Homo sapiens: one gene and its partners. The protein of the gene in region 1 interacts with the protein of each later gene in a pairwise test. Each region holds a gene or a part of one and is shown in the gene's direction. Other genes may lie near its edges.

Region 1 (7,692 bases):
GCAACATCTTGCTTTCATAAAAACAGACATTTGGGCCGAGTGTGGTGGCTCATGCCTGTAATCCCAGCACTTTGGGAGGCTGAATTGGGTAGACCACTTGAGGCCAGGAGTTGGAGACCAGCCTGCCCAACATAGCAAAACCCCATCTCTACTAAAAATACAAAAATTAGCCAGGTGTGGTGGTGCGTGATTGTAGTCCCAGCTACTCAGGAGGCTGAGGCACGAGAAGTATTTGAGCCCGGAGGCAGAGGTTGCAGTGAGCAGAGACTGCGCCACTGCACTCCAGCCTGGGTAACAGTAAGACTCTGTCTCAAAAACAAAACAAAACAAAAGACTTATTTGTATGTAATTGTTAGTAGTGTAATTCTGAAAAGCTTTTAAAATCTGCTCTTACAGGGTGAAAGGTTGAGCCATGCAGTAGGCTGTGCTTTTGCAGCCTGTTTAGAGCGCAAGCAGAAGCGGGAGAAGGAATGTGGAGTGACTGCTACTTTTGATGCTAGTCGGACCACTTTTACAAGAGAAGGATCATTCCGTGTCACAACAGCCACTGAACAAGCAGAAAGAGAGGAGATCATGAAACAAATGCAAGATGCCAAGAAAGGTACAATCTGTTCTACAGTGTGTATTTATGGAATGCAGTTTTTCCCAACAAGGTATTATTTTGAAGCTACCAGGGGTAAATTTTCTCATAATCAAAGAGAACCCTTAGCAATATAAAACCTTATAACAAAGTTGAAAATCTTAAAAACCGCTTCCTTTAGAGTGGCTAGTTTAATGGCTTCAAAAATATTTACTCCATTATAGTAAGCTATCTGAGGAATCAGAGTGCAGTTGAAGAAGCTGCAGAGACATCTCTTACCCCCTTCCTCCCATCCTGAAATACCTTTTTAATTCTGATGTATCTGATCTCTTTGAGAAGCAAATGAATCAAGTACCTGCATCTTAAAGGAAGCAGCAGAGGTCCCAGGGCTTAAGGCTGCAAAGCATCCACGGACTATGATGCTAGCAGAGAGATTTAACAGTAATACTGTTTATATGATATTATTGCTGTTTTTTAGTGCTTTCTAGTCACAAAAGTCTATAGATTTTGAGAGGTAAGCCTATAACTCTTTTTTTCTATAGCCCTGTTAATTTAATTTAGTGTGTGATTTTATAGAGTGTGAGTTTTATTTAGGTACACATGGCATCACAGCAGAAATGCCTGTACAAACATTCAAGTTAGTTGGCAGTCTATAAATGTGAGTTGGGTATATTTTACAACTAAATGATAGGGCTTGAAAATACTTTTGAATTCTTGTATATAAGTAGGGTTAAAACCAACAAGACAAGCACAAACAATTCAAGTTAACTAATAGACATTAATATAATTTTGAGGCCAGGTATAGTGGCTTACAGCTGTAATCTCAATACTTTAGGAGGCTGAGGAGGAAACATCACTTGAGGCCAGGAGTTTGTGACCAGACTGTGCAACATAGACTCTATCCCTTAAAAAAAAAAAAAAAAAAAAAAAAAAAAAAAAATTGCCATATTTGGTGGTGCACATCCGTAATCCTAGCTGCTTGGGAGGCTGAGACCAGAGGATTGCTGGAGCCCAGGAGTACAAGGTTACAGTGAGCTGTGATCATACCACTGCACTCCTCCAGCCTGGGTAACAGCAAAACCCTGTCTCTTAAAAACAAACAAATATATATATATGATAATTTTTTTTACTATAACCTTTTAGTTCTAAACTAGTCATTTTTGTTGTTGTTGTTTTGGTTTGATTTCGGTGTTTTTTTTTTTTTTGAGACAGAGTGTAGTTCTGTTGCCCAGGCTGGAATGTAGTGGCGCAGTCTCCGCTGACTGCCGCCTTCACCTCCTGGGCTCAAGCGATTCTCCTGCCTCAGCCTCCTGAGTAGCTGGGATTACAGGTGAATGCAACCACACCCAGCTAATGTTTGTATTTTTAGTAGAGATGGACTTTCGCCATGTTGGCCAGGCTGGTCTTGAACTCCTGACCTCAGGTGATCTGCCTGCCTTGGCCTCCCAAAGTGCTGGGATTACAGGTGTGAGCCACCGCACCTGACCTTAAACCAGCCCTTTTGGTTAGCATCATTGACTAATACTGACCCAAACAGCTCTAATTCTTAAGCCCCCTCCAAAAAAAAAGCATACATATTTTTATTTGAAATGAAATTATTGATAGTGATTTTTTTTCATTTCTTGTAAATATTTGCACCAGGAAGCCAAAGGGGGGAAAAATCATGCTATCTGTACTAGAAAATTTAACCTGTATTACTGTTATCTAATATGCTTTAGTGGTCTTCAGACTATTCACTAATTAAGCATGTTCTTTAATACCACCAAATAATATTCATTGTTATGCACAACAACTGCAAAGAGATTGAGTCCCAAGATCTACAAAGGATTGTGAGAGTTGGTGGTTGAGATTTGTCACAATCAGAATGGGACTCAACTGGTACCCACAGTCTTACATTTACTCAAATTTAATCCAGTTCAAAATTTTACTACTGCATGCTTTTATTCAAATGAACCACAAATGCATGATTTAAAGACTGCTTTAGGTCGGGCGTGGTGGCTCATACCTGTAATCCCAGCACCTTGAGAGGCGGAGGCAGGTGGATCACCTGAGGTCAGGAGTTCATGACCAGCCTGGCCAACAATGGTAAAACCTCGTGTGTATTAAAAATACCAAATGAGTTGGGCGTGGTGGTGTGCACCTGTAATCCCAGCTACTTGGGAGTCTGAGGCAGGAGAATCACTTGAACCTGGGAGGTGGAGGTTGCAGTGAGCCAAGATGGTGCCATTGCACTCCAGCCTGGACAAAAAGAGCAAAACTGCATCTCAAACAATAAATAAATAAATAAATAAATAAATAAAGACTGTTATATATGACATTCTTTGACACCTAATCAAAGATATATGGTTAAGCTTATGCTTATTTAGACCTTTCTAATGCTACAGTTCCCAAAGTTCTCCTCCCCTAACACACAAGCATTGAAAATCATGAATCATTCTTTAAAAGACTACATATTAGGAATTCATAGGAACTGAGTTTTTAAGATCTTTTTCACAGTCTTAATTTATAAATCACTGAATGAGAATAAAAGATCTAACATTTCTGTCTTAGTAGATATGCTTTGTGACATATAGTACATTACTAAGCCTTTTATCTGTCTGAAAAATGGATCCGAACCCTGCTTCTAACTTATGTTTTAAGAGACACTGGGAAGGAAATGGGTAAAAGGACCTAGAGGGCTTTCGAATTTGTCAGCTCTCTAAACGCAAATTATTTGAAGACATTGCTAAGGTCTTCATTCTCTTTATTTTCTTGAGCTGAAACAGATAAGATAGTCGTTGGTTCATCAGTTGCCCCTGGCAACACTGCCCCATCCCCATCCTCTCCCACCTCTCCTACTTCTGATGCCACGACCTCTCTGGAGATGAACAATCCTCATGCCATCCCACGCCGGCATGCTCCAATTGAACAGCTTGCTCGCCAAGGCTCTTTCCGAGGTTTTCCTGCTCTTAGCCAGAAGATGTCACCCTTTAAACGCCAACTATCCCTACGCATCAATGAGTTGCCTTCCACTATGCAGAGGAAGACTGATTTCCCCATTAAAAATGCAGGTAATGTAGCATCTACCTGACTCACTGGGTACTCGAGCACTGAAGCATTCTCATCACTTCCCATGAAGACACTAATCCCATTAAACTAGGCATTCCTCTTTCCCTGAGGTTCGTTGATAGTTGTATCTTTTGTCATTTCCCATAGTGGGAAAACTAAGGTCCGTGGAGGGGGATGTGAATCCATAATTTCTCTTCAACAAACAGGCAGCAGAGCCATTGTGGAATTTCTAGCCTAAGCCATAAGATTTGTGGTTTGTCCTGATGTAAGTGCATTCACTGCCTTTCAGCCAACCTGCTCCCAAACATCAAGGGTCTCAAGTTTCTATTCTTATTCTGCCATTGGGACCCAGCAGGGAATTAATTAAAGAGGCCTTAGAAACACATAGCATTACCAGCAGAAGAAATGGATATGTGCTCATTGTCCTTCTGGCTGGTTGGCTCCATAAGGAGGAAACTCTAGACAGGTCTTTCGTGTACATCTAAGATCTGTTGTTCATCACAGACAGTGGACTTGTTCACAAGTATTCATTACCTTTCAGAACCGTCTCACAGGCCTTTGTGTGGCCTCTGTACAGCTATGCCAGCCTCTATAGGTCTATCCTCGTCATAAAATCTGTAGCTAAAGTATTAGATCTGGTCAGTGCTTTTGTTGGGCTCTATTTTACTTCCCTCTGAGACATGTCAAGCCATTGCTATAACAAAATATGAGGAAACTGTCTCAATAGGCCATTCCTACTGATGGTATAAAAGTACAGAGAGTTAAGTTCATCTGACAGATGAAACTAGGCCTAAAGAATAGTTGGACTAGATGATTACGGAGGGTCTTTTCAGTTCTCAGCTGAGGTACCTCATTTCAGTTCAGTCTCCTTCTAGGGCAGACAGGGAATAAAAACTATTATTCTCTTTACAGATGAGCAAACAGAGCTTTAGCACACATAATTAGCTTCCTCAGTGATACAGAAGTATCCTAGAGTCAGTATTAAGAATAAAGGCCCTAGCGTCCTACACCTCTGCTCACTTTTTCATGTTATCATAGATCATATGCTTAGTACTGGAGACTTTGGAGAAAAATGAGATTGATGACATTGTCATAGTTTGTTACAGAGAAAAGCACTAAGCATCCACTAGTGCCCAGACTTGAACCCATTTTCCTGACAGAATTACTAAAGGCTCCAGAACCTAATTCAGATCACAGTCTTGAGAACACGTTGGAAGGCATACAGGTTGCAAATGTCTTCTACAAAGATCTGGCTAGCTGAACATCTTGGCACAAAAAGGACAGATCCTCAACAGTGTTATAAGAAGAAGAAATGAAGAAATTTGGGGATTTGTAAGGGAGGAAGATGTGCCTTAGTACATTAATTGTTGACATTTTATACTTTCCCATCTGAAAAGCCAATGAAATTGTGGCCAGTAAATTTTTTGAAACTGGTTTTGTAGCCCTGCCATACAGTTAATTGAGCCTTTTCTTACATAAGCAGGAGATACAGTATAAAGTGCCAGCTTGCATCATACTGTCAAATTTCAGGATTATTCCATTTTTCTGTCTGGAGCCATTTTCTGTTTGCCTTGCAGTGCCAGAAGTAGAAGGGGAGGCAGAGAGCATCAGCTCCCTGTGCTCACAGATCACCAATGCCTTCAGCACACCTGAGGACCCCTTCTCATCTGCTCCGATGACCAAACCAGTGACAGTGGTGGCACCACAATCTCCTACCTTCCAAGGTTGGTGCCCTCTGACCTGCTCAGCTGTTCTCTTTACAACCAGTACTTTTAGTACACTGCTCACTAACTGTAAGTTGGCATCCTGAGCTTCCCAAGGCCTGGTCAGACCCATTAATTTCTCTATTTGATGTCTTAGATTCATTGATTTCTCCATTCGACGATGTCTTTGTGCCCTTCCTGTTTTCTAAGATGTCTGTGTTTGTCATTCTGCATGTGCCCATCTTTCACCCCATTCTATAAGGAATTTCTGTAGTCCCAACCTACTGCCTTATTTCCCACTTGACTGTTAAGGATCAGCATACCCATCCAGTTTCCCAAAAGCAGTAGTCATCAGAATTGGTTCAAAGGTTATGCTTTCTTTAGTGTAGTGGTTCTCAACTGGGGCAAAGTTTGTCTTTCACTGTCTGGAGACATTTTGGGGCTTTACAAGTTGGGGGTTGGGGGTGTTACTGGCTTGTGGTTAGATGCCAAGAATGCCACTAAACATCCTTCAGTGTAGACGACAGCACCCACAACAAAGGATTATCCAGCCCAAAATGTCAGTGGTGCCAATGTTGAGAAGCCCTGGACTCACCTAGTCTCTGCCCTGTCAAAGAGGCTAATAAAGAAAAAGGCACTCCTTTGAGCTCTTTAGTTCATCTTCTATAACAAGTGTCTTAAAATTTGCCTTTGTGGCATTGAAGAGTTAAAAGTTGTTTTCAGAGATACTGACTAAATAGTGGATATTGACTCAGAGGTCAGCAAAGAATTTATGTAACTTAAGTTACAGACTTGTAGAATTTGAGCTGCTATAATTGCTGTTTCTCCATTTCTTTTGAAAGAGAGCTCAGCGGAAGTTTTACTCCAGAGATAGTGCCCTGCTTCTACTGGAAGAACTACACACTTTTTCTCCAAGGGTCTTTTTCTTTTTCTTTTTAATAAACCTTCATAGTCATGTGTACCAAATGACTTTTCATGTCATCTAACAAACATTTATAATACCGGTAATAATAGGCACCATTTATTGAGCACTTACACATTGCTTGCCACATTGTGGTAGGTATTCATGCATTATTTCATTTAATCCCCACAACAAGCCTGTGAGGTAGGTGTTACAGATGAAAAAAAAAAAAGAGGCTCAGAGAGGATAAGTAAATTGCCCAAATCTTACAGACAGGATTTAAACTCAGGTCCTCCTGAATATAGTACCCGTTACATTCTGCTGATTCTGCCAGCCTACAAGGCACTAAGTGTGCAAAATTGAATATTTCAGTTTCCTTTCCCTGCCTTTAGAGGGCTCCCAGTTTCTAGGTGAAAAAAAAAATTTTTTTGCCACCAAAAAAGCAAAGGCAGTCTTTTAGACAAACTCTAGGTAAACAGTACCAACACCGGCTGGGTGCGGTGGCTCACATCTGTAATCCCAACAGGGAGGCTGAGGCAGGCGGATCACCAGAGGTCAGGAGTTCGAGACCAGCCTAGCCAACATGGTGAAACCTCGTCTCTACTAAAAATACAAAAGTTAGCCGGGCATGGTGGCAGGCACCTATAATCTCAGCTACTCGGGAGGCTGAGGCAGGAGAATTGCTTGAACCTGGGAGCCGGAGGTTGCAGTGAGCCGAGATCACACCATTGCACTCCAGCCTGGGTGACAAGAGCGAGACCCCATCTCAAAAAAAAAAAAAAAAAAAAAAAATAGTACCAACACCATAGGCATGGCTGTCCAGTCCTAAAAAGGATATAATTATATTGTAGGTCAGGGGAGGGTGCTTGTCTACACCAAACTGAATGTTATTGAGAGCTGGGCTAAGGAGAAGAAACTAATATAGGTATCTGGAGTAAAAGGAACAAGGGTTAGCAGATTTTAACAAGGGGAGATGAGGAAAGAATAGTAGGTATGTTGTGATATTGTAAACATCATAGAGGGGGAAAAAAATCTTTGTTAAAAAATGTTCTGTGAGTTACCAGGAGAGTTAAAAAAAAAAAACCTTCAAAAAAAGTTGAAATTAATTGTGTAGCAAATTAGAAATCTATCAAGCAAATGAAAACATACCAACTTCGATTTCTCATCTGTAATAGGGGGATAATACCAGACTCGTAGGGTTTTTGAGATAATTAAATGAAATGATGCATGTAAAATATTAGCTTAATGACTAGCACATAATAACGAATCATATATACATTTTAACTTTTGAGGAGGAAACAAAGAGTAATTTTTTTTTGTTTGAGATGGAGTCTTACTCTGTTGCCCAGGCTGGAGTGCAGTGGTGTGATCTAGGCTCATTGCAACCTCCGCCTCCCGGGTTCAAGTGATTCTCCTGCCTCAGCCTCCCTAGTAGCTAGGTTTACAAGTGCACACTGCCA
Region 2 (8,264 bases), on another chromosome or scaffold:
GTAAGGAGAAGTGCTGAGCAAAAGGGGAAAATCCCCTTATGAAACCAACAGATCTGCTGAGAACTCATTCATTAACAGGAGGACAGCATGGGGGTAACCGCCCCCATGGTTCTGTTACCTCCCAATGGGTTCCTCCCACAACACATGGGAATTATGGAAATTACAATTCAAGATGAGATTTTGGGTGGGAACACAGCCAAACCATATCAAGGAGCAAGTATTTTTTGTTTGTTTGTTCTTTTTTTTTTTTTTGAGACGGAGTCTCGCCTTGTCACCCAGGCTGGAGCACAGTGGTGTGATCTTAGCTTGCTGCAACCTCTGCCTCCCGGGTTCAAGCGAATCTCCTGCCTCAGCCTCCTGAATAGTGGGGATTACAGGCGCACACCACCATGCCCAGCTAAATTTTTTTTTGTAATTTTAGTAGAGGTAGGGTTTCGCCATGTTGGCCAGGCTGGTCTCGAACTTTTGACCTCAGGTGACCCACCTGCCTCAGCCTCCGGAAACGTTGAGACTACAGGTGTGAGCCATCGCGCCCAGCCTAGGGTGCATGCTTATTTGAGGACTGGAACGTGAGAGTGAAAGGACAGCATGTTATGGACTGAGAAAGAAGTTTCAGAGTTCCAGAACTTGGAAGTGAAGCAATCCTATAATTACTTTGGGTTGCTAAAGAGGAGTGGTGCTGGAGGTTTCTAAGGTTAAGGGTGCAAAACTAGGAGGAGATTAGAAGGTAACAGGTCCTTCAATAGCAACATTGTTTCATTATAACATTGATGAGAAAAAATAAATGCATTCCCCGTAGGCACCACTGTCTGTGTGAAGTCTGCATGCTCTCCCTATGTCTGTGTGGGTTTTCTCTGAATCCTCAGGTGTCCCTCCACATCCCAAAGATGTGCACATTAGATAAGTCAGGGTGTCTAAATGGTCCCAGTCTGAGTGAGTGTGGATGTGTGTGTGTGTGTGTGTGTGTGTGTGTGTGTGTGTGTGTGTATACCCTGTGATGCAATCACATCCTAGACAGGGGCTGGGTTCTACCTGTCCCATGAGCCACTGGGATAGGCTCTTGCTACCCACAACCCCGAAATGGAATAAGTAGGTAGGAAAATGAATGAATATAAGTGACTGAAAAATAAAAATGTGTAAAGCATATGATGATCATACAGATGCAAAACAGTAAACAAGGTGGTGCCAGAGAGCTCAGCAAGCCACCATGTTTGTGATGATTTTGAACTTCACTTTGCAGACATTTATTCCTTGATTTAACCCACCACCAGGACAACCGTGGTAACTCACCAATATACCAAAAATAGGGTAAGTAGTTATTTTTTTTTTAGTTAATCATTTTAGTTGCATGTGTAGCTTACCTTTACTTAAATGTTTAATATTAGAAGTGTTTTGGTCTCGATTTAGAAATTTGGTGATTCTGTGACCAGAAATATGTCACAGCAACTTAACTCTTGTTTGTAGCAAATTATCAATTAGCCTATGATAAAATTGGTTTCGTGATACCGTAACCAAGTGCAGCCTTGGCTGTTTGCCCTTTGCAAACCCAATAACAAGGGGTGAAAGGAAAGTGACTTTATTTTTCAAAGCTAGCAGTGGGGAAACAGCCAGCTTACACCTCTGGAAACTGCTTCAAAAGTCTGGGCTGAAGGCAGAGGTTTCAAAAAGGGAACCTTGATATGGGAAACATGCAAGAGTTGTGCCGGGAGCCCGGGCTGTGTGTCTTGCTTCAACGCCTATCTTGAGTTATGGTCCATCTAAAATGCAGGCTGGCGTCATCTCGCCTGTGGCCAGGCTGCAGATTATCTATCTTGAGGCAATCTTTAAGTGGGGGACAATTCTGCAGCTGGGCCTTTGTGCCTAGTTCATTTTAAATTAGCCCCTGGAATTTTTAAGAAGCATACAGTTAGATAAATGTGCATTGGGTAAGGGAGTACATTGTGGGAAATAGAAGGGAGTGGAGTTTCAAAGTATGTTTCAAGGCTATATTTTAAGACTAAAGAGAAAAGGTTTCTACAGTTTGTTTCAAGGTTACAGCTTGAGACTGGCAAGAAAGGAGAAAAGAAAAAAGTTTTCTTTTGAAGCTAAACTACTTGGTTAGAATACCTTGTTTTGCTTAAAATTAGTTTCCACGGACCTATCCACAATAACATTAATTGAGGACTTACTGTATTGAATGGCTTATCACATCAATGTCAAAATTGATGCTTTCATTCATTCAACAAATTATTATTGATACACATTATGTGTCACATACTGGGCTTTGGCACTGTGGCAATGAAGAAATATTTTCCTTCTTTTCTTGCTTGCTTGCTTTCTTTCTCTCTCTCTTTCTTCTTCTTCTTCTTTTTTTTTTTTTTTTTGATACAGAGTCTCGTCCTGTCTCCCAGGTTGGAGTGCAGTGGCACAATCACTGCTCGCTGCAGCCTCTATCTCCTGGGCTCCAGTGATCCTCCCACCTCAGCCTCCCGAGTAGTTGGGACCACAGGTGCACACCATCATGCCTGGCTATTTTTGTATTTTTGGTGGAGATGGTGTTTCACCGTGTTACCCAGCCTGGTCTTGAACTCCTTAGCTCAAGCAATCCACCCACCTCAGCCTCCCAAAGTGCTGGGATTACAGGCATAAGCCACCATGCCTGGTGAAGAAATATTTTCTTAATAACAAACTTAACAAAGAAATTAGACAGGCAAGATAGGGTAGTGATTTTTAGAGTTGAGACAGCCTGGAGTTTGAATCCCAGATCCGGGTATTTAATAGCAACATGACTTACACAATACTTAACCCATTTTGCCTCAGTTTCCTAATCTGTCAAAAAAAAAAAAAAACCTAGTAGTACCACTTAATAGGGTTGTTGTGAATAATGTGGTTATTAGTGTAAAGCTTTAGAACAATGCCTGAAACTTAGTAATTATTCAATAATTAGCCGTTAAAAATGTAACAGCTATATATGTAATGTCAGATAGTGAAAAGTGTTATAAAGAAAAAGAATTCAGGTTGGGTGCAGTGGCTCATGCCTGTAATCCCAGCGCTTTGGGAGGCTGAGGTGGGTGAGCCCAAGAGTTTGAGACCAGCCTGGGTAACATGGCAAAACTCTGTCTCTACAAAAGCCACATACACAAAATTTAGGTGGGCATGGTGGCCTGGGCCTGTGGTCCCAGCTACCTGGGAGGCTGAGGTGGGAGAATCACCTGAGCCTGGGAGGTCGAAGCTACAGTGAGCCAAGATTATGCCACTGCACTCCAGCCTGGGTGACAGTGGGAGACTCTGTCTCAAAAGAGAAAAAAAAGGAATTCAGATAAGGGGATAGTGCATGGTGGGATTATTTTACAGCAGCTGTTGCAGGAAGGCTGCTCTGAGGAGGTGACATATGAGCAGGGACCTGAAACCATATGAGAGAATACGCCATGCCATGGTTTGTGGAAGGACTATTTTAGATGGCAGGAACAAAGGCCCTGGGGCCGACAAGAGCTGCAAGGCCTAGGAGAGGTGGCAGAGAAAAAGATGCAAAGACAATTGTGAGCCAATCCCTACCCCATTGTGCTCTTTCTGTTTACACCTTTGGAAGGCAGCTGTCTGGGGGGGGTCTGATCACTTGCTGCAGGTGCCCTGAAAGGACACATGAGGGGCTGCTGTAGCAAACTGAAAGTCTTAGAGATGGGAAATAAGCTTAATGGATAGTATATACTTACCTTTATCAAATACTACTAGTCAAGTCAGAAGACATTGACAGGTCTAAAATCCCTTATCTTTCTTAAAAAATAGAAAGATAATAGAATGCCTGTGACTGTGTACATATTAACATTCTACAAAGACCTGGAGTGAAATGAGTAAATATTGACACTAAGTGGGATCCATAAAGGCTAGAAATAGCTTCATGCAAGCTTAGTTTAGATTTTGCCTCCAAATGAGGCAGGGCAGGTTTTACTTCCAAAGGGTTACAAAAAAAAGTCTTTGGGTTTTCAGTGCGCTTTGAATTTTGCAATTACAGATAAATGACTGGGAACCTGTAATAATTTCCTCATATGTGTCATTTATAGGATCCGCACTCTGGGAAACAACTTGTAGAAGACAAAATAAAAACCAGAACTCTGGGTAATTCTGCCTTAGCTCCCGTCTTTGAAGTATTTTATATTTGCTAAGTATAAATTCTTAAGATATTCTACTTGAAATAGCTGAAGAATCCCCTCTCTGGGACAGGTGCAGATTAAAAGAGCGCCACTCCATGATTTTCATAAAGGAGAAAATACGGAAGGCAGCCCCTGTGGGCAGCCCCGGGCCTACATGAGTTGATAGAGTTGAAGGTATAAATGTAGAGTATTAAGTTCCCAGTGACCGGAATGACCTGGTGAACAAAGAGGACAACTTTGCCAGTTTTCCCCTCTATTCAGCACATTTTGTTTCTCAGGTAAACATGGCTTGAAGCACGAGTGAGATGAAGCCTCAATGTTGGTGTCTACGTGGAGGCTTCCCGGATAGCCAGGATGTTCATAGCCCGGATGTTCATAGCCCTTCAGAACAGATGGAAATACTGCATTTATCTTCATCTGTACCGAAAAGGTACAGATAGAATGATAATAACCTGAACAAGGCTCCCCTTTCAATCCAATTATTCAGACGCTTAGGACCAGAAACTGCGAAACATAAAAACTGCAACCCGGATCTTAGTTATCTCGGTCTTAATGAGCTGCCGGCTGTTTCCCACTGCACCCCCCTTTCCGGGGGTCTTGCTGCTGAGATCTCCGCGCAGAGGGCGGCTCGGTCATCCCGCCGCCGGGCGCCGGCCACCAGGGGGCGCTGCGGCCTCCTCCCTCTCCCGGGAGCGGCCAAGCCAGCCCGGTGGGTGTTTCTCTCTCCCTCTCGCGCTCTCTCCTCCCGGCCTCACATCCGGGTCTGGAGCGCGGCCGCCGCTGTCACTGTTGGTGCGGGCGCGTCGGGGCCGGGCCGGGGCACTGTAAATGGCGGCGGAGGGAGGCGGAGCGGCGGCCACGCTCAGCCCAGATCCCCCGAAACTTTAGGTTCGAAGCCCCACAACTTTCCGGGAAGCGCTGCCGCTCCGGAGGCGTGGACGGAAGGGGAAGCCGAGGCGGGAAGTCTGGGGGAATCGGCAGGGAGCCGGGGAGACTCGAACCCGCGGCGGGGGCGGAGTCCGCCAGTGCCTCGCGCCTCCGCGGCCCCCGCCTCTTTCTCTGCACCCTCCCCGCGGCCGGAGCCGGAGCCGGAGCCGGAGCCGTAGTCGCAGCCGCAGCCGCAGCCGCGCGCCGGGCCTCGCAGGCAGCGGCGCGGCGAGCGCAGCCGGGCCCCCTCCTCGCGACCTCCGGGCCCTGTTGCTCGGGCGCACCTGGCGCGTGTGAGGCCGGGGCCGGCGTTTTCGGGAAGCTAGCAGGAGGCCGGGCCACGCGCAGCCCCTGCCGGCCCAGGTTCCTGGGGCCGGGCCCCGAGTAGTGCATGCGGGGCGGGGCGGCCGTGAGCCGGAGGCGAAGATGGAAGGCTTAACGCTGAGCGATGCGGAGCAGAAATACTATTCAGATCTCTTCTCCTACTGCGACATTGAGAGCACCAAGAAGGTGGTGGTCAACGGGCGGGTGCTGGAGCTGTTCCGGGCCGCGCAGCTGCCGAACGACGTGGTCCTACAGGTAACGTCGCGTCCCGGGGCCGGCGGGCGGCTTAGGCCTGCAGTCACTGGCCTCCAGGAGTGGGAGTGGGCGCCGATTCCTTGGGGCCCGGCGGGGGGCTGGTTCCTCGGGGGGTCCCCGCAGCGGGCAGGGGCCGCAGGTGCCCGGGAGGCCTGGACTCGCGCCGCGGCCAAGGGGGAGGGGGTTGCCCTTAGAGGACGGAACTCCTGTGGTGGGGGTCTGAAGAGCCTCAGCCGGTATCCCCCACGACCCTGAGAATCTGTGCTCTGTACTGCAAGAGCTATCTCACTTGAAGGATCTTAGGTTGTTAATGTGTGTGAATCCTAGAACCTGGCATATAGAGAGCTTTTCGGATCCTGCAGAGTAGTAAAGTTATCAGTATGGGCAAAATGGTTTTTTTAATTCTTGGATTAACCGAGAAGACGTGATAAAGTGAGTTCTATAGATTTAGGAATCGAAGAAGCAGTTTTTTTAAAGGAAGCAAAATTCTTAGGGAAATTTTTTAAAATGTGAACTACTTAGTAGTTTTACAAGTAGGCATACAAGAAGTTGTAATTATCTGTAGAACGTGTGTATGTGATGAGACTGAACAATGTTTTTCAACAGGCATTCGAAAGCATTTGTGGAACTTGTGGATTTGGGTTGGGAGATGAGTATTGAACAGCTGGTAGGCAGAAGTGCGTTATTTGCCCTAATCTGAAGCCCTGGAGGAGCAAACCCTGTAGGTTTAAAGCCTTTTTTTATCATATCTGCTTTTGAAACAGAGGACTTCCTAGAAGTTCTTATCTAATGTATGTGGTGAGCATTAATGCTACTCTGTTTAATGATTCATAGCTGCTAGTAGGAGTCTGTCTAAACAGTATGTTAGGAACAGGTTTTAAGCTTTCATCTTTTATATTGATCCAAGCTAGTTATCCACATCTCCAAAATTTAAAGCCACATGTATAGGTGTATGTAGTGGACTGCAAAGCATTGGACCAGGGTTTTGAAGGCTGGGTCCTTGACCCTACTCTGCTGTTAACCAGCAGTGTGACTTTGGGTCAGGCACTTTCCATTTTCAAGCATAAGTATGTTCATCCACAGAATGAAGGCAAGTTTCTTCCAACAAAAATTCTGTGAAGAATAAAAATGTCCACACACAGGTCTCTGTTTTAGAAGTTAAGTCTGCATTAACTATGACTAAGTTGAACGAGTTCGATCTTTTTAAATGGTCTTGTGTTTTACATTGCTTTTTTAAAGGTGGGATGTCTTACGTGCCAGTGAAGGGCAACGAGGAGTCCCAAATTCATCCTGTTGAAAAGGGACAAATAGTAAATATTTTGGGCTTTGCTGGCCACATATGCTCTCTGTTGCATATTCTTCTTCTTGTGTTTACAAAACACAAAAATGTAAAGCCATTCTTAGCTCAGGGAGATACAAAACAAAGCCTGTGGTCTGCTAACGAAGGGTGCTGGTAGTGTGGTCTATGGTACTCTCCTGTTACAGCTTTGGAGTAGGACTTAGAGATCTGGTCAGAACATGCTCATTAATCATACTCTTTTTGCTCCTTTTGAAGAAATAACAAAGTATACCTTCAAGTTAGGATCTAAATAAAATTAAGGAAAAGCCTTCTCTGTTCTATTTTAGTTTGTCTTTGAGGTGAGAAAGAGTTGAAATAAAACTTTCAATCTTTTTAATGGGTACACAAAGACTTTAGAACTTGAAATGTAATTTTTAGGACAGACACATTAGCATTAATGAATCTTTACTTCAAACATGTTTAATTCAGTGCAAGTTATTTTTATGTTTTGCTCAATTTTATTAACATTCAAAAAATAAATTTCCATTGTCTTTTGGCATAAAGAGAGAGCTTAAATATTCAGGGTTCAGTTACAAGTTGGAACTCCCTGGAGCAGAACTCTTACAGTTATGTATACTAAATAGCAGTCTAGATATCTTGAAGGCAATTTACTTAAAAATTGGTCTAAGACATAGAAATATGAGACAAAAGGAGAATATGTGCTTAATTCCCTTAAGGGAGTTTGGGATTGTCTGAAAACACAGTCCTCCATTGCTTTCTAAGTGGGAAACATTTGGGGCAGCTCATATCTAATGCTTAGTTCTCTACTTAACACTGGGCTAGGCATTGCAGGCATCAGAAGAGGAGTAAGAAGCTCTTGAGGATCTTGTCAATTATAGGAGTGCTCATGTATAACATAAGGTATAATGTATGCCATAGGAGAGGTGCCAAGTGTTATGAAATGCTAAGGAGGTATGACCAAGAAAGGCTTTTTGACTTAATTCAGATGGACTTTAAATTAGGGTGGAGTGAGGGGAATGGAATTATGAGGGCTTCCAGGCAGAGAAAAGTGATCAGAAGTGGAAAGTGTAGGAGCCTTTTCAAGGACTAGTGTTTTCGGGATAACAGAATATAAAATTAGAAAGAGGCCATATTGGGAAAGACTCTGAAGAAGGGCAGCAGATAACGATATTTCAGCAAGCAATGGAGACCCATTGAAAAGTTTTTGACTTTGAGTGGCAGAAAGGGTAAGGAATGACACTCTTTCAGTGGTCTGGATTGGGTGCTAGGTCATGGACATCCAACCAGGGTGACAGCAGTAGAATAGAAAGGGAGAGACTGGATATGTT
Region 3 (7,692 bases), on another chromosome or scaffold:
TTTGGTTAAAAAAAAAATCTGGGCCTGGAATTTTATCTGGTTTTTTTTTTTTTTTTTTTTGAGACGGAGTCTCGCTGTGTCGCCCAGGCTGGAGTGCAGTGGTGCGATCTCTGCTCACTGCAAGCTCCGCCTTCCGGGTTAACGTCATTCTCCTGCCTCAGCCTCCCGAGTAGCTGGGACTACAGGTGCCTGCCACCACTTCCGGCTAATTTTTTTGTATTTTTATTAGAGATGGGGTTTCACTGTGTTAGCCAGGATGGTCTCAATCTCCTGATCTCGTGATCTGCCCGCCTTGGCCTCCCAAAGTGCTGGGATTACAGGCGTGAGCCACGGCGCCTGGCCTTCTGGGGATTTTTTATTACAAATATAACTTTATTAACAGATGCAGGCCTATTCAGATTTTCTATTTCATGTCAGTCTTGGTAAATTGTAATTTTCAAGATATTTGTCCATTTCATCTAATTTTTCTAATTTCTTGGCATGAAGTTGTTCGTATTTTATCCTTTTCACGCCTCTAGGATCTGTAGTGATGTCTTTCCTCATGTTGCTCAAAGAACCAACTCTTTTGGCTTTGTTGAAGTTATCTGTTTGTTTTCATGGATTTCTGTTCCTTATGATTTCCTTGCTTGCATTTATGTTGGGTTTATCCTGTTACTTTGTAGCTTCCTGAGGCGGAGCCTTAGGCCTTGATTAACGTGTTGTACTAGTCAGCATTCTGCAGAGGAACGTTGCCATTATCTGTGTCTCTTTCTAAAGGAGATTTGTTATGAGGAATTGGCCCACGTCATTATGGAGACGGAATCTCATGCTCTGCCATTTGCTGAAGATTGAGGAAAGCAGTGGGATAATAACAGTCCAAGGACAGGAGGAGACACGTGGCCCCGCTCAGGCTGGCAGGCGAGAAGGAAAACCCAGGCCAACTCCTCCTCCCACCCCTTTCTATTCGGGACCCCCGTGGACTGGGACGACACTCACCTGCACAGGGCAGCGCAGTTGGCTTCATGGAGCCCCCAGCTCAGGTGCTGCTCTTACCAAGAAACACCCTCCCAGGCACACCCTGAAGTCATGTTTCATCTGGGTGCCCCACGATGCAGCAAAGGAGACATGAAATTAACCGTCATGTACACTGTATTTATTATTCAATTCAAAACATTTTCTAAGTTCCCCTGGGATTTCTTCTTTGAGCTACATGTTAGCCGGAGGTGTGTTGTTGAATATCAAGAGTATCTTCCTCCTGGGTTTCCAGTTTGTAGCTAAGTCAGGGATAGTGCTGTGTGTGACCTCATTCCATTACGTTTATTGAAACCAGCTTGAAGCCCTAACATGTGGCTTGTCTTAGTGTACAGCATTCAGTTAAAAACAATGTGTGTTCTCTAGATGTTGGGTGTTCTGTGACTGTCACGTCATGGTGGTTGATTAGTTAGAAACAATGTAGAAACAATGTGTATTTGCCAGGCGCTGTGGCTCACACCTATAACCCCAGCACTGTGGGAGGCTGAGGCAGGCGGATCACCTGAGGTCGGGAGTTCAGCCTGAGGTCGGGAATTCAAGACCAGCCTGGCCAACATGGAGAAACCCCATCTCTACTAAAAATACCAAAATTAGCTGGGTGTGGTGGCACATGCCTGTAATCCCAGCTACTCCTGTGTGAGGCTGAGGCAGGAGCATTGCTTGAACCGGGGAGGCGGAGGTTGTGGTGAGCCGAGATCGTGCCATTGCACTCCAGCCTGGGCAACAAGAGCAAAACTGTCCCCCCCCCCAAAAAAGAAAGAAAGAAACTGTGTGTTCTCTAGATGTTGGGTGTTCTGTGAAGATCAGGTCATGGTGGTTGATAGTGTTGTTCAGAACATCGATGTTTTTCCTGATTTTTGGTCTGTTCTGTCGATTTCTGAGAAAGTATTAAAATTAAAGTTGGGTCTTGCATTTTTATCCATTCTGTCAGTCCCTTACTTTAATTGGAGTTTTTTGTCCACTAACATTGAATTTAATTGTTGATATGTTTGGATTTAGATCTTCCAACTAATTTTCTATTTGTTTCCTGTGTTGAGTTACTTTTTCATTTTTCTTGTAACTTTTTAGCTTATACCTCTTTGCATTTTTTATGCAGAGGTTGCTGTAAGGATTACAATATGCATGTTTATTTTAATTAATTAATTTATTTTGTTTATTTATATATTTGTTTTTAAGGAACAGGGTCCCTGTCTCCTGGGCTCCAGTGCAGTGGAGTGATCATAGCTCACTGCAGCCTCAAACTCCTGGGCTCAAGCGGTCCTCCCGCCTCAGCCTCCCAAAATGCTGGGACTACAGGTGTGAGCCCCTGTGCCGGCCCACAGTACACAGCTGCAGTTCTTCAGGATCTCTTGGGGTGGCCGTATTCTGCCGTCTCACACTTCTCCATGCCATGGCGTCTGTCTGTGCACGTGGCAAACTCCACAAGGCAGTGTTGGATTCTTTTGCTTTGAACGGTCTTATGGAATAAAGTCCATCAGCTCTGCCCTTGGTACTTTCATCTATACTTTGTGATACTTTCTTTTTATTTTTTCTTCTAGAATAGCCTAACATGGCAGACCAGAGACAGCGCTCACTGTCTACCTCTGGGGAGTCATTGTACCACGTCCTTGGGTTGGACAAGAACGCAACCTCAGATGACATTAAAAAGTCCTATCGGTAAGTGGACAAGTGTGGCCCCCACATCCCCCCAGGAAGACACACATGCCCCGTGTGGTTTAGTCTGCATTTTACCAAGAACCATTGCACATACTTTATCCTGGCCGACTCAGCGTTGAACTGGTCACAGCTCGGTAACACCTTTGTATGTGTAATGTGCTCCTTATAGCTTAAAGTTATGGTATTCATGTTCTCTTGCCAACAAAAAATAGCACTTAGTAGAAACTGACACACTGTCCACAGTTCCATAGGGAGTCAGGGTCTGAACCTGTTTGAGGCCTCACAGGAGCCGCAGAGCGCTGGCATGGTCCTGTGGTCTCCTTGTTTTAGCACAGTGATGACAGAGACCCCTCACTCTGTTGTGGCCTTCTGATTGAGCTTGAAGAACTGCACTCTTGGGTACAGTTTCATTGAGTAACCTGTAAGAGACACCATCACTAATCCAGACAATTCAGATAGTCCTCCTCTCGTGTGCTAGCATCGTGTAGTTCATAAAACACTTCTTAAAGTGCCATCATTACGCCCCGCCGTGCTTACCGTTCACTTGGCACTTGTGCAGTTAGCGGCTGGGACACCAGGGCTGGCCTTGGTGCCGCTGAACTTAGATGTGCCGTGGCACTCACAGCCCTTGGGGCTCCCTCCTCTGAGGCTGGGTCAGGGTGAGGAGGTTTACCTGAAACAACCGCGGAGCTTGCTTTTGTCCCTGGCCCCTGCAGCCCTGGAGAGTCGGACAGTGAGGTGGCCTGGGTGGACCTGCCTTCCACTGCACCCGGCAGTGCGTGCGGGTGGGATGGACGCGGCGGCGGGTGCGGGTGGAACAAAGTCCAGGGTAGAGCCAGGACATGGTTTTGGTTTGCAGGAAGCTTGCCTTGAAATATCACCCCGACAAGAACCCCGACAACCCGGAGGCCGCGGACAAGTTTAAGGAGATCAACAACGCGCACGCCATCCTCACGGACGCCACAAAAAGGAACATCTACGACAAGTACGGCTCGCTGGGTCTCTACGTGGCCGAGCAGTTTGGGGAAGAGAACGTGAACACCTACTTCGTGCTGTCCAGCTGGTGGGCCAAGGTGAGGGCGAGCTGCCTGCCGTGCGGGCACCCGAGTCACTCCTGCCGTGCGGGCACCCGAGTCTCTCCTGCCGTGCGGGCACCCGAGTCACTCCTGCCGTGCGGGCACCCGAGTCTCTCCTGCCGTGCGGGCACCCGAGTCTCTCCTGCCGTGCGGGCACCCGAGTCACTCCTGCCGTGCGGGCGCCCGAGTCACTCCTGCCGTGCGGGCACCCGAGTCTCTCCTGCCATGTGGGCACCCGGGTCACTCCACGCCTGCAGGGTTCCCAGCATTGCAGAGCCCATGCGTTGATGCCAGCAACTCTACACTCCTGAGAAAAGGCTTCTGGGCATATGGAGCCTTTCTCCTCACCTGTGTGATGGGCGAAGCTCTGTCACTGGCTTGGTGTCCTGCCTGGAACAAGCCATAGCGTACAGATTGTCCCAGGGAAGAGCCGTGCGGAGCCGCCAGGGTTTCTTCTGTAAATGGCTCCCAGTCCTTCGTGAGACAGGAGGAAATAAGCCTCGATGTTACATCCGCATTTCTTCGTTTCCTCGTTTTGTTCCAAATGTCATATATGAGGCCAGAGGGTTGGAATCACTGCATGGCATTTGTGAGAAGCCTGTATTTGGCTTTGACTGGTCGGCCTCCTCACTAGAATCCTTATAAAGTACTTTTTATTTAGTTAATGTTAGACAGAGTCTCGCTCTGTTGCCCAGACTGGAGTGCTGTGGTGAGATCCTGGCTCACTTTAACTTTGAATTCCTGGGTTCAAGTGATCCTCCCACTTCAGCTCCAGAACTGCAGGAGTTGAGGCGTGAACCACTGTGCCCAGCCTGGAGGCTGCTTTGTTTTTTTTTTGAGACGGAGTCTCGCTCTGTTTCCCAGGCTGGAGTGCAGTGGCGCGATCTTGGCTCACTGCAAGCTCCACCTCCCGGGTTCACGCCATTCTCCTGCCTCTGCCTCCCGAGTGGCTGGGACTACAGGTGCCCGCCACCACGTCCAGCTAATTTTTTGTATTTTTAGTAGAGACAGGGTTTCACCGTGTTAGCCAGGATGGTCTCGATCTCCTGACCTCGTGATCCGCCAGCCTCGGCCTCCTGGAGTGCTGGGATGACAGGCATGGGCCACCACGCCCGTCTTGGAGGCTGCTTTTCTTTAAGCTGCGGGTTTCTTTCTGTCTCTCCTCCTCCCTTCTTCAGTTCTTTCCTTCTGCTTCCTGTCTGGAAGGCAGTATCCCCACCTGGAACGCACCCCCTGCCTTCTGCTGAGGGCATTTGGGAGTCCTGCGCCTCCCTCTCCAGGGGCCTCGGAGGCCATGCAACACCACCTTCTTCTCCCCCCAGGCCCTGTTTGTCTTCTGCGGCCTCCTCACGTGCTGCTACTGCTGCTGCTGTCTGTGCTGCTGCTTCAACTGCTGCTGCGGGAAGTGTAAGCCCAAGGCGCCTGAAGGCGAGGAGACGGAGTTCTACGTGTCCCCCGAGGATCTGGAGGCACAGCTGCAGTCTGACGAGAGGGGTGAGTGCCCGCCCCAGGGCCCGTGTGTGTGTGTGGGGCAGAGCCAGAATGGGCCCTGAATGGTGTCAACCTGTCTTGTCAAACAGGAGGGCACTGACACTGTGCCGCGAGTGTTTGTGGTGGCAGCTGGGACTGTTGAGGTGTGAACGTGGACCCTGAGGTAAAGCAGGCGCATAGAGCTGTCCCCGCCGTGACCTGCGGTAGCCGTAGATCCCAGGGACTGCGAGGCGGGGCAGGGCGGCAGGCAGTTGGGGCGGGGCTGAGGGCCGAGGGCTGGCGGTGACCCAAGGCGACGGAGGAAAGCCGTGTGGGGTGGAGGTCAGCGAGTAGCCTCTCCCGGTGGAGAGTTTGTCCAGGTGCCCGAAAGTCGCTCCACAGGACCAGCGTTGGGTGCGCGCCAGGCTGTGGCCCTCGTGCAGTGCCCTGTGTGCTTGCTTTTCAGAGGCCACAGACACGCCGATCGTCATACAGCCGGCATCCGCCACCGAGACCACCCAGCTCACAGCCGACTCCCACCCCAGCTACCACACTGACGGGTTCAACTAAATCCAGGAGGAGCTGTGGTCAGAGGAGGAGCCGGCGCCTGGCCACGCCAACCTTAGAATCATGAACTGTAGTCACAGAGATGGGAAGGCAGCCTCCTGCCTGCCCTGGCCTTGCTGGGGCCCCTCCTGCCTCCACGCCCACCCAGCGTCGACCCTTGACCCACGAAGTGCGTAGCATGCAGTATTTAAAGCAGTGTAGCTACGGTCTTCTGTTTTTTTCCCTTTTTTAATAGCATGTATGGGGTTCTGTTCCATGTCTGTGTTGTGGACATTCCGCGGCATGACCGCGTGAACTGCACGGTGGAGCTGCCTCAGGGCTGTCGGTCAGGTTGGTCCAGTGAGGGGTGACTGCAGCCGGTCAGGTGGGCGAGGAGAAGGGGGGCTGCCCCTTTCCTACCTGTGCTTGAGGGGCCGGAGGCAGGTGCTGCCTGGCAGAGCTGTGTTACCGTCTTGGCCTCGGGGTCTGGTCCACACTCTGTGCTCCCAGCCTTGAGGCTGCAGTAGGACTCTGATCTCACCTGCCAGAAGAGAGGCGGGGCCGCGTCCTCCTGGCGTCACCGGCGTCACTGTCATTCCTTGGTGTCTGTGCTGGGCATGGTTGGCTTGGGGGTCTGTGGTTTCCTGGGCCTTGTGGCAGGGTTTCTCCCGTGGGAGAATTTGGTGTGGAAAGCATAGGAGGCCCCTTCCGAGGTTGACACCGTGTCCTCCGCGGTGTTTCTCGCCTGGTCGTCTCGTCGTGTGGACGCTGCCGTTCTGGTTCTCGGAGGTGTGTCCTTCGCCGTGTTGGGGTTATTTGTCTGTGTTCCTGCACTTTTCCCGGGCTCTGAGCTGGATTGATGGGGCCAGTCTCCCCCCTCCCATCTTGAGGTCGTTCTCCACATTCCTTCCAGCACACCTGTCCTTTCCATAGCCCTTTTTGGACCTTTAGAACCACAGATGATAGGACCAGCCCAATGAGCCACAGTCAGAGAGTAGATTGTGCATGTGTGAGCACCCAGCTACTGGGGACGGGGGCTCTCCCACGACCCCTCCTCCTGTGTTTGCCAGAGCTCCCATCTGCCCCACTCGCCTTTGCCCCGTCATCGATGATTCAGGCAGAGCCAGATTCGTTAGGTCCCTGGAGGAAGGACTGACTGGACCAGAGGGACCCTCTGGCTCAGGAGGGTTGGGTCCCTGGGAGGCCGGCAGCCAGGCCACAGAATCCACACGTGGACCATTGTGGGTCCCTGGGAGGCCGGCAGCCAGGCCACGGAATCCACACGTGGACCATTGTGGGTCCCTTGGGAGGCCAGCAGCCAGACTACGGAATCCACATGTGGACCATGGGAAGTCAGTCTCTTGCGTGTCCTAGACCTTGTGGGTGGCGCCCTGCATAGGGGAGCAGGGGGAACGGGTCTGATGTCCCTGTGCTGGCTGAGGGCTCAGAGCTGCCCGCACTCCGTAGCTCATGGGATGTGCTGGGCCTGCCTTTGGCGCCATGCTGCAGACTCCAGTGGGCCTGGTTTCTGCAGAATGTCCATGGTGGCCGCTGCAGAGTTGCAGAGGTCCCTGTAGAGATAAAGCTGAGGAGGAGGCTGTGTGTGATGGCTCTGGCTCGGACCAACCAGATGAGCCTCCTGAAGCCCCCTTCCCTGCCTGCCTGCTGACCCGTGGCCCCAGCTCACTCATTGCCCTCAGCAGCCACCCGAGGCTGTGCAGAAGGGTAGGTTCAGGTTGACCAGGAAGCTGCCAAAAGGGACATGGATATGAGGATACATCTGGACGTGCTTAGGAACAGGGTGCTGGTTGAGGGCCCCCAGCTGACCCCTACTGCAGATCCGCATGTGGACCATGAGCCGGCTGCCAGCACTAGGTCCTGGGCAGCTTTGTTTGTCCCACTTTTCTTTGTTTCTTCTCACTAAAATGATCAC

What was found. Proteins that work in one complex are often made in the same cells at the same time.
Region 2: the proteins of NUMB (region 1) and REPS1 interact in binary tests that used the Homo sapiens proteins (3 or more experiments, as listed by UniProt).
Region 3: the proteins of NUMB (region 1) and DNAJC5 come close enough for resonance energy transfer, tested with the Homo sapiens proteins (one study listed by BioGRID).

What each region holds. Positions count from the first base shown.
Region 1 is NC_000014.9:73,280,019-73,287,710, reverse strand, and holds part of NUMB (protein numb homolog), read left to right. Parts: intron 1-396; coding exon 397-601; intron 602-3,336; coding exon 3,337-3,630; intron 3,631-5,205; coding exon 5,206-5,352; intron 5,353-7,692. UniProt on the Homo sapiens protein: Regulates clathrin-mediated receptor endocytosis. Plays a role in the process of neurogenesis.
Region 2 is NC_000006.12:138,984,902-138,993,165, reverse strand, and holds the start of REPS1 (ralBP1-associated Eps domain-containing protein 1), read left to right. Parts: upstream 1-4,912; 5' UTR 4,913-5,483; coding exon 5,484-5,636; intron 5,637-8,264. UniProt on the Homo sapiens protein: May coordinate the cellular actions of activated EGF receptors and Ral-GTPases.
Region 3 is NC_000020.11:63,925,786-63,933,477, forward strand, and holds part of DNAJC5 (dnaJ homolog subfamily C member 5), read left to right. Parts: intron 1-386; exon of another isoform or gene 387-1,202; intron 1,203-1,516; exon of another isoform or gene 1,517-1,537; intron 1,538-2,549; 5' UTR 2,550-2,560; coding exon 2,561-2,667; intron 2,668-3,526; coding exon 3,527-3,740; intron 3,741-5,065; coding exon 5,066-5,237; intron 5,238-5,679; coding exon 5,680-5,783; 3' UTR 5,784-7,692. UniProt on the Homo sapiens protein: Acts as a general chaperone in regulated exocytosis. Acts as a co-chaperone for the SNARE protein SNAP-25. Involved in the calcium-mediated control of a late stage of exocytosis. May have an important role in presynaptic function.